2 linked regions of the Homo sapiens genome follow. The protein of the gene in region 2 interacts with the protein of the main gene of each other region in a pairwise test. Each region holds a gene or a part of one and is shown on either strand. Other genes may lie near its edges.

Region 1 (7,100 bases), on a different chromosome or scaffold from region 2:
CACTGAAGGACTGGAAACATGAATTTTGTGCTAGAAGCTACTTGAACTTTGAAGTCATATAGATCATCCAGCAGATAAACAGACTGGAAATTCCTGTTTAATATGTTTATCTTTGAAGCCATTTTGCATGAAGTGATTCATGTCAAAATGTTTTCAAGGAATAACAGATTGTTGGGGAGAAATGGTACCGGTCTCTAGCACTCTTGATTTTTTTTTTTTTTTTTTTTTTTTTTTTCAAGACACAGCATCTCACTATGTTGCCCAGGCTGATCTCAAACTCCTGAGCTCAAGCCATCGGCCTGCCTCGGCCTCACAAAGTTGCTGGGATTACAGGCGTGAGCCACCAAACCCGGCCTAACACCCTCAATTTTGAGGGAATACATTGAGTATGTATCAAATCCATGTAATATTATCTAGAAATCAACTTTATGACATCATGTATTTTCAGATGTCTCTGGACTTTTACATTAAGAAGTGTCTTCCTGTGGCACATCTGTTTTCAACCTGAGGAGACATCGTTGCAAAACTTTGTATTACATGGCGTCTCATATTTCTGAGATGGATCTAATTTTGTAAGGATGCTTTCTAAACTAATTACAAAACATTTTTGTAGTTGCTCAAAAATTTTTGAAGGGTTAAATGCTCAAGAATTTAAGGGCCAACTAGAAAAACATTTAAGTTAATTTGATCCTTTTTTTGCCCCATGTCACTATATGCCCCAATTACCTGAACTGACCACTATTTTTAATAAAGTAATTGGGTCAGTCAATATTAATGTAACATTAAAAGTCAGTTTAGGTTATACAAAATAATAAATACCATTAATGGAAAAAAGGAAAAACTATTTGTCACAGGTAATAAATATATAAATTATGTAAATAACTTTCACTAACTTAGCCAAACTGTCACTTATCCAGGGATGCTTAACTAGAGTTAAAAAATAATCATGCATTTAAAAAAAACCATTACTTAAATATTTATGTAAACAAAAGGCATCTGTTGTTCAGAAGCACAGTCATGCCATGCAATACAGGACTGAAGCAGTAGCAAAGACAGGGCTGTGGCTTCCAAGACTAAAAAGTATGGTAGAAGAATTAGTAAAGAAAGGAAATGGGAAGGGAAAAGGAGGGAGCATGTGGATGGGACCTGTTTCGGACCCACTGGTATCCTATACTGTTCTCAGCTGAGAGCTATGAAACAGAAAAGTGGCAGAATACTTTAACCTTTTGCCCACTTTTTATCAAGTAATGTAAATGATGTTGGATGATCTTAAAATGACTCCTTACACTATTTTTGTATTTTGAGATGAAGGCTGCAGAAGAGTAATTACGTTCCCAAATCACCATAAATACCAGTTTACAAGAAATACATTTTGTGCCAGGCTTTAACAACAATTTGAGATTATTTGTGCCTGCTAGCCTGCTTCCAGTTACCCCCGGAAGTGGAGAAGTGCCTCCAGACATTTTATAGTCTTTATAAGAAGTTTCTAAGGCCACAACAGCCAATCTGGGGGGACAAGATTATGGACATTAAACAGTGCAAAGAAAATAATGGAAATCTTTGGGGTTTTTTTGTGTTTTTTGTTTTTGAGATGGAGTCTCACTCCGTCACCCAGGCTGGAGTGCAGTGGCGCAATCTCGCTCACTGCAAGCTCCGCCTCCGGGGTTCACGCCATTCTCCTGCCTCAGCCTCCCAGAGTAGCTGGGACTACAGGCGCCCGCCACTATTTTTTTTTTTTTTTTTTTGTATTTTTAGTAGAGACGGGGTTTCACCGTGTTAGCCAGGATGGTCTTGATCTCCTGACCTCGTGATCTGCCCGCCTCGGCCTCCCAAAGTGCTGGGATTACAGGCGTGAGCCACCAGGCCCGGCTGGAAATCTTTGTTTTTTAAGAGTTAAAGAAGGTAAGAAAAGCCAAGTACTATTTATTACCCCATAGCCTTTTTTTAAGGATACACATGGATGAGGAATCTTAAAAACTTCAATTATCTTAAATATTAGAAAAATTTGCCAATAAGCTTCATAGTGTTTCTTCAGACTTCAACAATATAGGCACATCAGTAGTGGGCAACACCCTGGTCAGTGTAGCCCAGGCACAGCAGCAGCATCAGCACTGGGAGCTCACTAGACAGGCAGGGTCTCAGGCTCCACCCCAAACCCAATGAATCAGAATCTGTACTTTAACAGATTTCCAGGTGACTAATGTGCACATTAAAGTCAGAGAAACATTCCTCTAGACTCTGAAGAAGAAAGATAAACCACCCTCACATTCAGTTCAGCTATCAAAATAACATGGAACTACAAAATAATAGATCCATAAAGAGAGCCTAGCTTTGGATTCAGCCATTACATATGCTGAATTTCCAATCGAGTATGTTCCTGTCATAAAAAGGGTAACATCTATTCTAAAAGATTCCCACGCAGTTTATATTTTAAAGTTCAAAGGCAATTAGGAGTTTCGTCTCTCACACCATTTTCTGGACTATTTTTCCTCAAGTTGTGCTACTATTTGCAGGATTAATTATGTTGCATTGGCTAAAGATATCATACCTTCCCAAAATATTTTAAAATTTTAATAATGGCAACTGTCAGTTGGACCCTATGCTGTAAAATATGGGCTTTAAAAAAAAATCACTGGACAAATTAATTTTGGAATCTCAGTTCACTACTGCTATTGAACCTTTCATTTGGGAGTGTAACAGTCAGATAACTGTTGAGCTTTAAAAGACCCATTAAGGCCGGGCGCGGTGGCTCATGCCTGTAATCCTAGCACCTTGGGAGGCCGAGGTGGGCGGATTACCTGAGGTCAGGAGTTCAAGACCAGCCTGACCAACATGGTGAAACCCCATCTCTAGTACAGGTACAACAAATTAGCCGGTGGTGGTGGTGCACGACTGTAATCCCAGCTACTCGTGAGGCTGAGGCAGAGAATCCCTTGAACCCAGGAGGCCAAGGTTGCAGCGAGCCAAGATTGCGCCATTGCACTCCAGCCTGGGTGACAGAGCAAGACTCCATCACAAAAAAGCAAAAAACAACAACAGAAAAACCATTAACTGCTAGCTAGAGAGAGTTTGATTAATACTTGTTAATGAACCTTTAAAAATTCTGATGCAGTGATATTTTAAACAAAGAAGGAAAATAAGCAGAATGCGACTTTGTTTTGTTTTCTTTAGAACTTGTTTCTACGCAAACCTTATGGATTTGTAAAAATATTCCATTGATAATATTTTGTACTCACGTTGTAGATATGTAACTTTTAGAATATACAACTGATAGATAAATCAAATATGCATATCGTGTTCCATTAATACAAGATTTAAGATTCAAGTGAAGGGATTATGGGTATTTCAAAAGATAACCAAGTAATATGAAAAAAGTTTGAGTTCCTTATGAGTAAAGCTTGTACTTTTATGACTTAGCCCAAACCTGATGATCAGTATAAAAGGAATATATATCATAAAACCATGAGTACCAAAAGTCTTAAAATTATTAGGTTTGATTTCAAAGCTATTTCTAAAACTATAGGGGAAAACAGTTTTTAAAAATCAGTAAAAATGAATGTATATTATCTTTCAGAAATTTCAAAGCACCTAATCTTAGTCTGTGTTCCAGGATTCATTCTAAGTCTTTTGTTAAACTGTAAGCTCTTTAACTAAAATTTGAGTTTGATGTTTTAAAACCCTATTTTCTTTAGAAGATATGTACTTGTACATTTTTCTTCTATTCTAAACCCACTCACTTTTTACATTTTTATATATTAAAAGACACAGTTAATTGAGGTACCTTATAGATCTAACCCCTCTCAGCAATTTTAACTTTAACCCTATCAGTTTTACTGCAATCTGGTAAATTCAGAGAACATAAGAGGGAAATCGGATAGTGTTGTTTTGAATCCCCCAGTTTAACATGTATAAATAACAACTTTAAATGAAAAGACACCAAATTGGGTATTTAAATGATATGCCTACATAGCTTCTTGCAACTAGCTAAGCTATATAGACAAGTGGAAACTTTCATTATAAAAATTCCAGTGAATACAACTGTCAAAGTCTCCACAGTGAAATACTTTAAATTTAATTTTGGCCATTAGTGCAATTTTGGAAATAGGGAATAGGGTAGAGAAGGCCTCATAGTGAGTGGTCCATGATTTGCTAAATAACTTAAACCTCAAATCCAAAAGAAATTTTTCTTAAAGTCATAATAGCTGTAGGAACTCTGCACAGATGTTTTTATGTTGCAGTGATGTTAGAAGTAGCTGAAAATATTTTTAGCAAAGAAATGCAATTGGTAGGACAAACTAATGCAGGCATTTTTTTAAAAAAAAAAAAAAGATAGCATGCAATACAGATTACAAACTGAAGCTGCACAAAAGCATGTTAAGTATAAGAAGGACCAAGAAGTTAAAAGAAACATGCTTTAATTTACCCTTTCTTCTTCCTCCTTTGAAGATATCTGTACGGGACAACACAAATTACTGCAACTCCAACAACTATAAGAAACCAGGAAACAAATGACATATAATTCTGAAAACTAATCACCAAGATTCAACATCTAGCAGAAGAAATAAATGTTGGTTACATTTCAGTGGTCAAATGTTATTTAAGCACCTACACATTTATATTCCATCCAGACTCTTTGCTATCTAAATCCAACTCCCCATAATCACTTACACAGTCCATAGTAAGTCAGAGAAAAGTCCTTGCTTAATTTAGAAAACTATCAAAAGCACATTTGGGAAGCCAACTAATATTACTGATCATCTTGAGAAAATATGTATTACTTAGGCTTTGTTACTAAGTAGATATACAGAATATAACAGAGTATAAAATCACTAACACAAGGTAGGTAGTTAAGTATATCAAATAAAAAGTCAGGTTTTCCTAAATCGGTTTAACCAATTTACAAGCTGAAAAAACTATAGAAACTGAAAAACTATTTTTAAAATGCATGTCTTCACAATAATTTTTTGACTTAAGTGGTGTCAAAATTTGTGATACTTACCTATGGCAATAACAATCACAGCAATGACCCAAACATCTGAGAAAGAAAACAGTTCCAAGATGTTGAACACATGGATCTCCAGATAGCATTTATTTCAATCAGATCATCTAAACACTTGATATGGTTTGGCTGTGTCCCCACCCAAATCTCATCTTGAATCGCAATTCCCATAATCCCCACGTGTTGTGGGAGGGACCCCATGAGAGGTAATTGAATCATGGAGGCAGTTTCCCCCATGCTATTCTCATGATAGTAAGTTCTCACGAGATCTGATGGTTTTATAAGCGGCTTCCTCCTTCACTTGGTTCTCATACTTCTCCTTCCTGCCATCATGTGAAGAAGAATGTGTTTGCTTCCCCTTCCTCCATGATTATAAGTTTCCTGGGGCCTCCTCAGCCCTGCAGAACTGAGTCAGTTAAATCTCTTTCCTTTATAAATTACCCGGTCTCAGACTGTTCCTTACAACAGCATTGAGAATGGACTAATACAAGACTACAGAGGAAAAAAAAATTTTTTATATAGTTTTAGCATGACTGCTAGGGCATCCAGGTCATTTTGATCATAGAACCCTTCTAACCAGTTTCCAGGTTAAGGGTTCCACTTGTGAAACTCTTAATGGGAACCTCATTTTTCACTGTTTTTCTCTATAGCTACCACATCAGGTTATTTAGCGGTAAAGTTATTAGAGTAATTAGAATTCACTATAGTAAAGGAAAATGATTTTTGAAAAGTATTATCCCATGAGAGTTGGTTTAGTTCAACAGTCATTCTGTCATTTCTTATTTTGGTAGACATTTAATTTGTATTTTTTCCTCCAAAAGTGATCTGTAGAGTGAGTCATAAATAAATTTCTATTATTCTATTGCCCAGATGGTATTTACAAAGTCTTCACAAACAATACTTTATCTTATCAATCCCCTTCCCATCCTCTCTACTTCCATACTCTGCCCTGCCCCAAAATTAAGACATAGTCCTAAATACCAATAGGATTCCCATAATAAATGAAACACCAGGGCACATGGATAAAAAATATACAGAGAAATTTGAGAATACATTTTTGACTATCTAGAGAACACAAAATAATCCTATAAAATCTTAATTTTTAGAACTGTTTCTGTCCCTAGTACCTTTGCTTCTAAACTGCCATTACTTTTATTAAATTGCTATAAGTCAAAGCATAAAGTGCTATGTTCAACTCTGCTCTTCTCATCTCATAAACAGTTATCAAGTGTTTAACAGTTTAAGATGGCAACAGATTTACTTGGACCACAGATTTTGGAGGTAAGGCAAATACTAAAAAACAAGCCTAAGGTGCATTATATAAAATGATTAACCATTACCAAACTAGTCTAAGAAATGAAAGGTAATAGATTTTTGTTTTTACTTATTAAGAAATCTTTATTTTTCATTGGCCTATATCACAACTGCACTTCATCTTTTTTTTTAACATGCATTGTGTAAACTGCGTAAGCCTACATCAAGTGTGTTAAATCAGCGTGTTACAGAAAAAATAAACCCAACTTAGATTGCTTTAAGGTTCATGTATATAAGATATGAATAGAAAGAAAATTTATCGACAGATTACCATCACAAAATAACAATATAATGTGGAAAGAAAATTGTGTTTTATATATTTTAACCTACATACAAACACAGCATTTAAGAAAGTTATCTTACCCTACCAAGGATCCTATGTTTGGGCACCTCATAAAAACTAATTACCTACACGTTTCTACACATACTACCACTTATATTTGTCATGATAGCTATACCAACCCAAACTGTCAAGTATTCCTTCCTCAGGTTTAGGATATCCTAGGAAAAAAGAAGAAATATAGATTAAATTAATAAAAGAAGGAAAGAATTAAATATAAAGCTTAAAATCCTTTAAACTCATAGGGTGATTTTTTTTCACCTTTGTAGAAAATCCCTTAAAATATAATTTTCCTTATAAACTATATTAATGTTTCTCAAAGTAGTATCATAAAAATTTATAAACTTACATTTAATGTCATAATCTTTCTTCTTCCTCCCCACTCACATTTTCTGTGACAACATTCTGTGGTTCAACATGCAAATTTATCTGTACTATTTTCTCAAA
Region 2 (6,172 bases):
GCACTCCAGCCTGGGCAACAGAGCAAAACTTTGTCTCAAATAAATAAATAAATGTAGTTGAATTTTTAAAATATAATTAGGTTTTAAATGTCTAAGTGTAAAGTAAGAAAAGAAGTAAGTGGTTAGTGCTGAAATATGTAGCTAAAAGTTAAAGTCACAAGTGGACAGAGATTTATCCACTTGTTTTGGTAACATGGAGATCATTTATGACCTGGGTTAGCAGGTATGGTACAGGGGAGGAGACAGAATTAAAATTAGATTAGTTGGTGGTTAGACCAGGAACAGTGGCTCAGGCCTATAATCTCAGCACTCTGGCAGGCCAAGGTTGGAGGATTGCTTGAGCCCAGGAGTTTGAGACCAGCCTGGGCAACATAGTGAGACTGCATCTCAAAAAAAAAAATTTAGAAAATTAAAAATAAAATTAGATTAGTTGATGGAGTGAAGGAGAGGTGAAGAAATAGAGACAAACTGTATAGGCACCTCTTATTTAGGTCTTCTTGTCTCCACTATAACTCTTGGCAGGCTTTCTTTGCTACTGATGAGGCAGAAATAAAACTATATTGTCAGTCTCAGATTTAAAAAACATTTATTTTAATAAGACTATTGCAAACACATTAAAAAAACTAAATAGTAATATTACAAAATCTATATACTTGCACATTTAGTATTTGTCAATGTGCCAGAGGTTTTCTTCATGAAATTTGACTTCTTTGAAGTGAAGGCTTTTTTCCATCATCTCTTATAGCTCTGACTGAATAAGTCTTAATGCTTTCTTCATGTTTTCTATCACTGAAATAAGAGTTAATATATATTATGCTATTAATAAATGAAAGTACAAATGCTATGATCTATTAACTCTAGAACCTGAAATTGGCCCATTTAAATTAATAGCTTTGAACATGGGAATTCGTCTATGACATTAAAGAATATGCTAAAAGTGTACATGTAAATTTAGGGATTAGACCATTGAGAGCTGGTTGGTCAACTTTATGTTGAACAATTTCATCAGAGGGGTTTTGAGGAGTACCTCTTTTTTTTTAATGCATCACTTTGTATTAGTATTGCTAGATCTTACAGGCACAGTTGTCTTATTAAATATAGTTGATAATGAATGTTGTAAAAAATAGATTTGGCCAGGCATGGTAGGTCATGCTTGTAATCCCAGCATTTTGGGAGGCTGAGGTGGGAGGATCACTTGAGGCCAGGAGTTTGAGACCAGCCTGGGCAACATACCAAGACCCTGTCTCTACAAAAAAGAAAAAAAAAGGATTAAAGTCCTAGGTAAGACTGTACCTCCTTGCTTATAGGCATTAAAGAAAGATGAAATGATTTTACTATCATTTGATGAAATCACATGAGATCTTTGATACTAGGAGAATGGACTGTCTCAAGTTTGTGTCATTTTAATGTGTACTATATTCTTTTTAGTGAGCTCAGAATTTAGTAATCCTAAAATCCCTTAGACATCCCTGTTAAAATAGATTCTGAGGTACCCCCAAAATTCTGATTTTGGTGGGAGCTAGAAGTTGGCATTTAAACACCACCACTAGCCTCAGTGACTGGTGTGTAGAAGCACTGATGTAGGGCTTCACTAGCCCTTAACAAATAGTCAGGGGTCAGCTATGACCACTGTTTGAGATCATTTGTGAATACTTACATAGGGGTAAATCCCGAGGCTCATATGTGTACAATCTGTTAGAGTATCTTCCAGCTATGTCAGCTCTAACTGTTAAAGAAGGGTCTGTCAAGGAAAAAACCAAGTCACGAAAGTATAATTTAGCATGTTCTTTTCTTTACTCTTGTAAAAACTTAATTATTATTTTATATGTGGGGGTTATGTGTACAAGTTTGTTACACAGATATATTGTGTGATGCTGAAGTTTGGGCTTCAGCTGAACCCAACACCCTAATAGTGAACATAGTAGCCAACAGTTAGTTTTTCATCCTTTGGCTCCCTCCCTCCTTCCCCCGTTTTGGAGTTCCTATTGTCTATTTTTCCTCTCTTTATGTCCATGTGTAACCAGTGTTTAGCTCATATTTATATGTGTGAACATTCACTATTTGGTTTTCTGTTTCTGTGTTCATTTGCTTAGGATAATGGCCTCTGGCTACATCCATAAAACGTTCTTAAAATCATTTTTGTTTCTTAATCTAAAACAAATGTCAAACCAATTTATAATCTAAAACAAATGTCAAACCAATTTATAAGCAAAATTAGTTTTCATACATGTCAGTTCATGAATTAACCTGAATTCTCCTTTTAGTGTGTCATAGGTCTCTGTCAATCTAGTCTGGGGCACTGTGTTGAAAGTACATTGGGATATAGATTTAATAGCATACATGCTTTGAAAAAATATTTAAAATTTTCAAATTACAGATATAGTGGATTTTGATTGTAGAACTAACAAGAGCTGATATTATTGGATTAGAAATGACTTCTCTTTAAAAAGAATAGTACTTGAACTAGCATTTAAAAATAAAAGCAAGAATGCTGATTTCTACTAATTTTGTAGATCTGATGAAATGAGATCACATACATACCTACAAACATGATTCTAGGCACATATTGCCCATCAGGTGATAAATTCTTATCAGTGGTTTCATGCTAGCAGGAGAAGAAAAAAAAAGAATGTTATTGGATTCATTTGTTTTTGATAGTTTCAAGATGATTTTGTGTGACTGTCAGTAAATTCTATTTTGGCCTTTTATAATTCCATACAACTTTCTGTATTAACCAATATTTAGCTCTTTGTGCTTTAAAAATAGAAAAAAAGGAGGCTGGGCATGGTGGCTCATGCCTGTAATCCCAGCACTTTGGGAGGCTGAGGCGGGTGGATCACCTGAGGTCAGGAGTTTGAGACCAGCCTAACCAACAAGGTGAAACCCTGTCTCTACTAAAAATACAAAAATTAGCTGGGCATGGTGGCAGGTGCCTGTAGTCCCAGCTACTTGGGAGGCTGAGACAGGAGAACTGCTTGAACCAGGGAGGCTGAGGTTGCTGTGAGCCCAGATTACGCCACTGCACTCCAGCCTGGGTGACAGAGCGAGACTCTGTCTAAAAAAAAAAAAAAAAAAGAAAAAAACGGATTCAAAATTTCCATGAAATTATAGTATTAAGAAAACATCACAAAGTTTATGTACCATAAGGTTTAGCATGATGAACTTATTCTGAGCCATTTCTTGTATTTCTTCATTTTGGGCAAATACTTTCTTTAGTGCTATAGGGGAAAACAAAATTGCCAGTTAGTTTTAAGGATCAAGAGACCTTTAATGTAACATAGCAAAATAAAGCTAATATTTAGCATTTGTTTGCATATATAACTCAGGTGTAAATATTAATAGTTCATTGGCCTATTGCCACTTTGTCCCTCATTGGAAAGCAATGAGGGACAGTCTGTTCAAGGAGACATCAAAGGATAATCACAGTGAAGACACTAGTTTTTATAATTTTATGTAACTCATTGACTCATTGGTTAAGACAACGACTTTTTTTCAGTGTTTCTACACCTTCTCAGCTCACCCCTTTCTTTTCATGGGAAGAAGAGGAATATGTAATTCCCAAGGGAATATAATAGAAATATTCAGTAGATTGGTAACAATCATTGTGGTCTTTAAGCACCTTAGTAAAATGATGGTACTCTGGCAGTTGTCTATTTTTTTTAATGGGATTTGCTGAGCGCCTTCTTAGCTATTATTACCAGGTCACTTTTCCTATTTTATATTGGAAATATTATATATTATAATAAGATATCAGGGGCTAAAATTACCTTGAGAGTATTGACAATCCTCCAGGTGATGAATAACCATTAATGGCTTCTTACTAAACAAAGAAAGTATGGAATTAAGTCAAATGATTAACTTTGGGTCAAAATATACAGTAGAGTTAGATTTAAAATTTTATTAGCTTCAATAAGGCTTACAGTAGTAATCTCAGATTTACAAATCATAGCACTATAGTCAATAGCAGTGTTACTCTATTTGTGGCCTCAGAACTGATAGTATCAGTATCACTAGGTAGCTTATTAGGAATTTAAATTCAAAGGCTCCGTTCCCAAATCAGGAAAGCCTCCATTCCAAAATTAGCTGGGCACAGTGGTGTGAGCCTGTAGTCCCAGCTGCTCTGGAGGCTGAGACATGAGAATCGCTTGAACCCAGGAGGTGAGGTTGCGGTGAGCCGAGATGGCGCCACTGCACTCCAGCCTGGGTGACAGAGCGAGACTCTGTCTCAAACAGACAAACAAACAAAAAACCAAAGGCTTCATCCCAGACCCACTCAATCAGAATCTCTGGGGTTAGGGGTGGTTTCAGGAATCTGTAGCTTAACAAACTTATTAGGTAATTCTTATGTACTCTATAGTGCAGTTAGAGAAAATCAATTCTGTATCCAGAGATAAAGGGTTATTATGAACAATGTATTCATTTCCAATGAACACTTAGTATAAGATTTCAGGAAAGTCAAAGACTTTTACATTTAGTTTTTTAAAAAGTTTTTACAAAAAAGCTGTTAATATTTGGCTATTTTCACATCCTTTCATTCTTGCACGTTGCAGAATATACAAACAACCTGAGTGGGAGTTCCCTATTTCATACATTTTTGGGGGGTCATTTTGATTTTAACCATAAAAAGTTAAAAAGATAAAAATTCTTCCTCCTACTGCTAACTTCTATAACTATGCTGTATTACTTTTTCTTATATTTTCTCCCAGAGGTTTTCAGGTCATATAACTGAAAATCTATATGAATATGTTTATATATTGTATATACCCAGATGCATGTTCACATTTATGTGTATGTATTTCTTTTTAAAAAACAAAAATACTAGCACACAAGTATCTACATTTTGCTTTTAAAATATAAATCTTAGATATGCCACTGTTCTTTTATATTATATTCTATTATATTAATATTTTATCTTATTAGTCTCCCCAAAGATGGATATTTAAATTGTTTCCAATCTCTTGTGTTTAGATTGTTCCTAAACATTTACATTTGTACACTTATTTGCTAAACATGCTTTTTTTTTAAGGCACGCAGTTTCTTTACACCCATAATTGCATCCTAAACTCTTGTATAGTTCATATTTACAGCCCCCCATAAAGTTTTTGCATTCTGAATTAGTCCTTCACATTTTGATATTTGGCATAATGTTCAAACACACTTTATACACACTGACCTCTCCTTAAACCACTCATAGATTTAATAAATCCTACAGAAAAACATTCAGAGATTACTTGAAAGCTTGATCTTCTATTTACTTCAAGGTGACAGAAGAGTTAGTTTTTCGTGATGAAAGACTACAGGAACGGAGAATTAACAAACTGTTGTGTAATTCATCAGAGAAGTATATTAACTCTGCTGAAGTACCACTGAATGAAACAAAAATGAATCTGTGAAGTAGCAATCTGATTAGCAGGCTGGCTTCTATGTCCCATCACTCTCATAGTCTTCTATTATTATATTTTCTTCCACGTCTCCTTGGGCTGAAAAGAGCTGAGGCTGGCTGGCAGGCAGTTCACTGGCACTATTCTGACTCAGAGGAAGAGACCAGGTTTCCAGCTCTGTGTCCTGTGCGGGTTCACCCAGAGATTCCTCTGCAGAATGTCCTCCGTTAAGCTGGGCTTCATCTCCACTGTCAGGGTCGATCATTCCATGTTCCCTGTCAGTCAGGGCTTCCATTTTCAGTCTTCCGAAGTGTTGCTTCAGAGGGAGCCTTCCAATATCTTGGATAAGAGAAATCTGAGCTTGATTTCTCATTGGAATGGTTATTAGAGCAAGGTATGGCAGTAGCTGAGTTTGGAGGCATAAAGCTGGTAGGCAGAAGTCAGGAAAAAGTGCTTTTGCTGCCAGGCAATTTTCCCCATACTTTTTATGTATTAGAAACCACTGCGGTGTGTGCGAGGGTCAAAAACTTGATCCTTCTCCTTGGCAATGAGCATATCCTCCGGCTTTGTTGGAATGTATCACACCTCTTGTAGCTATAGATGTCCTATATTTCCTGAGTAAAGAGCGTGTATTCCAGTCACCACTGAGGATACCTGCAAAACTTAGAAATTCACTGGCTCTCACAATATCATCAATTTCCATGAAGAAGTCTATGTAGTTTTGGTGAAGATATAAATTAAATAAGTCTCCTGGCATGTGTGACATTTCTACTACCTCCTCAGGTTCAACA

Evidence for each region.
Region 1: the proteins of AGR3 (region 2) and CD46 interact in binary tests that used the Homo sapiens proteins (3 or more experiments, as listed by UniProt).

Annotation. Positions count from the first base shown.
Region 1 is NC_000001.11:207,783,006-207,790,105, reverse strand, and holds part of CD46 (membrane cofactor protein isoform 3 precursor), read right to left. Parts: intron 6,815-7,100; coding exon 6,776-6,814; intron 5,036-6,775; coding exon 5,000-5,035; intron 4,488-4,999; coding exon 4,424-4,487; intron 1-4,423. UniProt on the Homo sapiens protein: Acts as a cofactor for complement factor I, a serine protease which protects autologous cells against complement-mediated injury by cleaving C3b and C4b deposited on host tissue.
Region 2 is NC_000007.14:16,858,843-16,865,014, forward strand, and holds the end of AGR3 (anterior gradient protein 3 precursor), read right to left. Parts: intron 3,821-6,172; coding exon 3,768-3,820; intron 3,219-3,767; coding exon 3,142-3,218; intron 2,606-3,141; coding exon 2,542-2,605; intron 1,742-2,541; coding exon 1,658-1,741; intron 790-1,657; coding exon 740-789; 3' UTR 570-739; downstream 1-569. UniProt on the Homo sapiens protein: Required for calcium-mediated regulation of ciliary beat frequency and mucociliary clearance in the airway. Might be involved in the regulation of intracellular calcium in tracheal epithelial cells.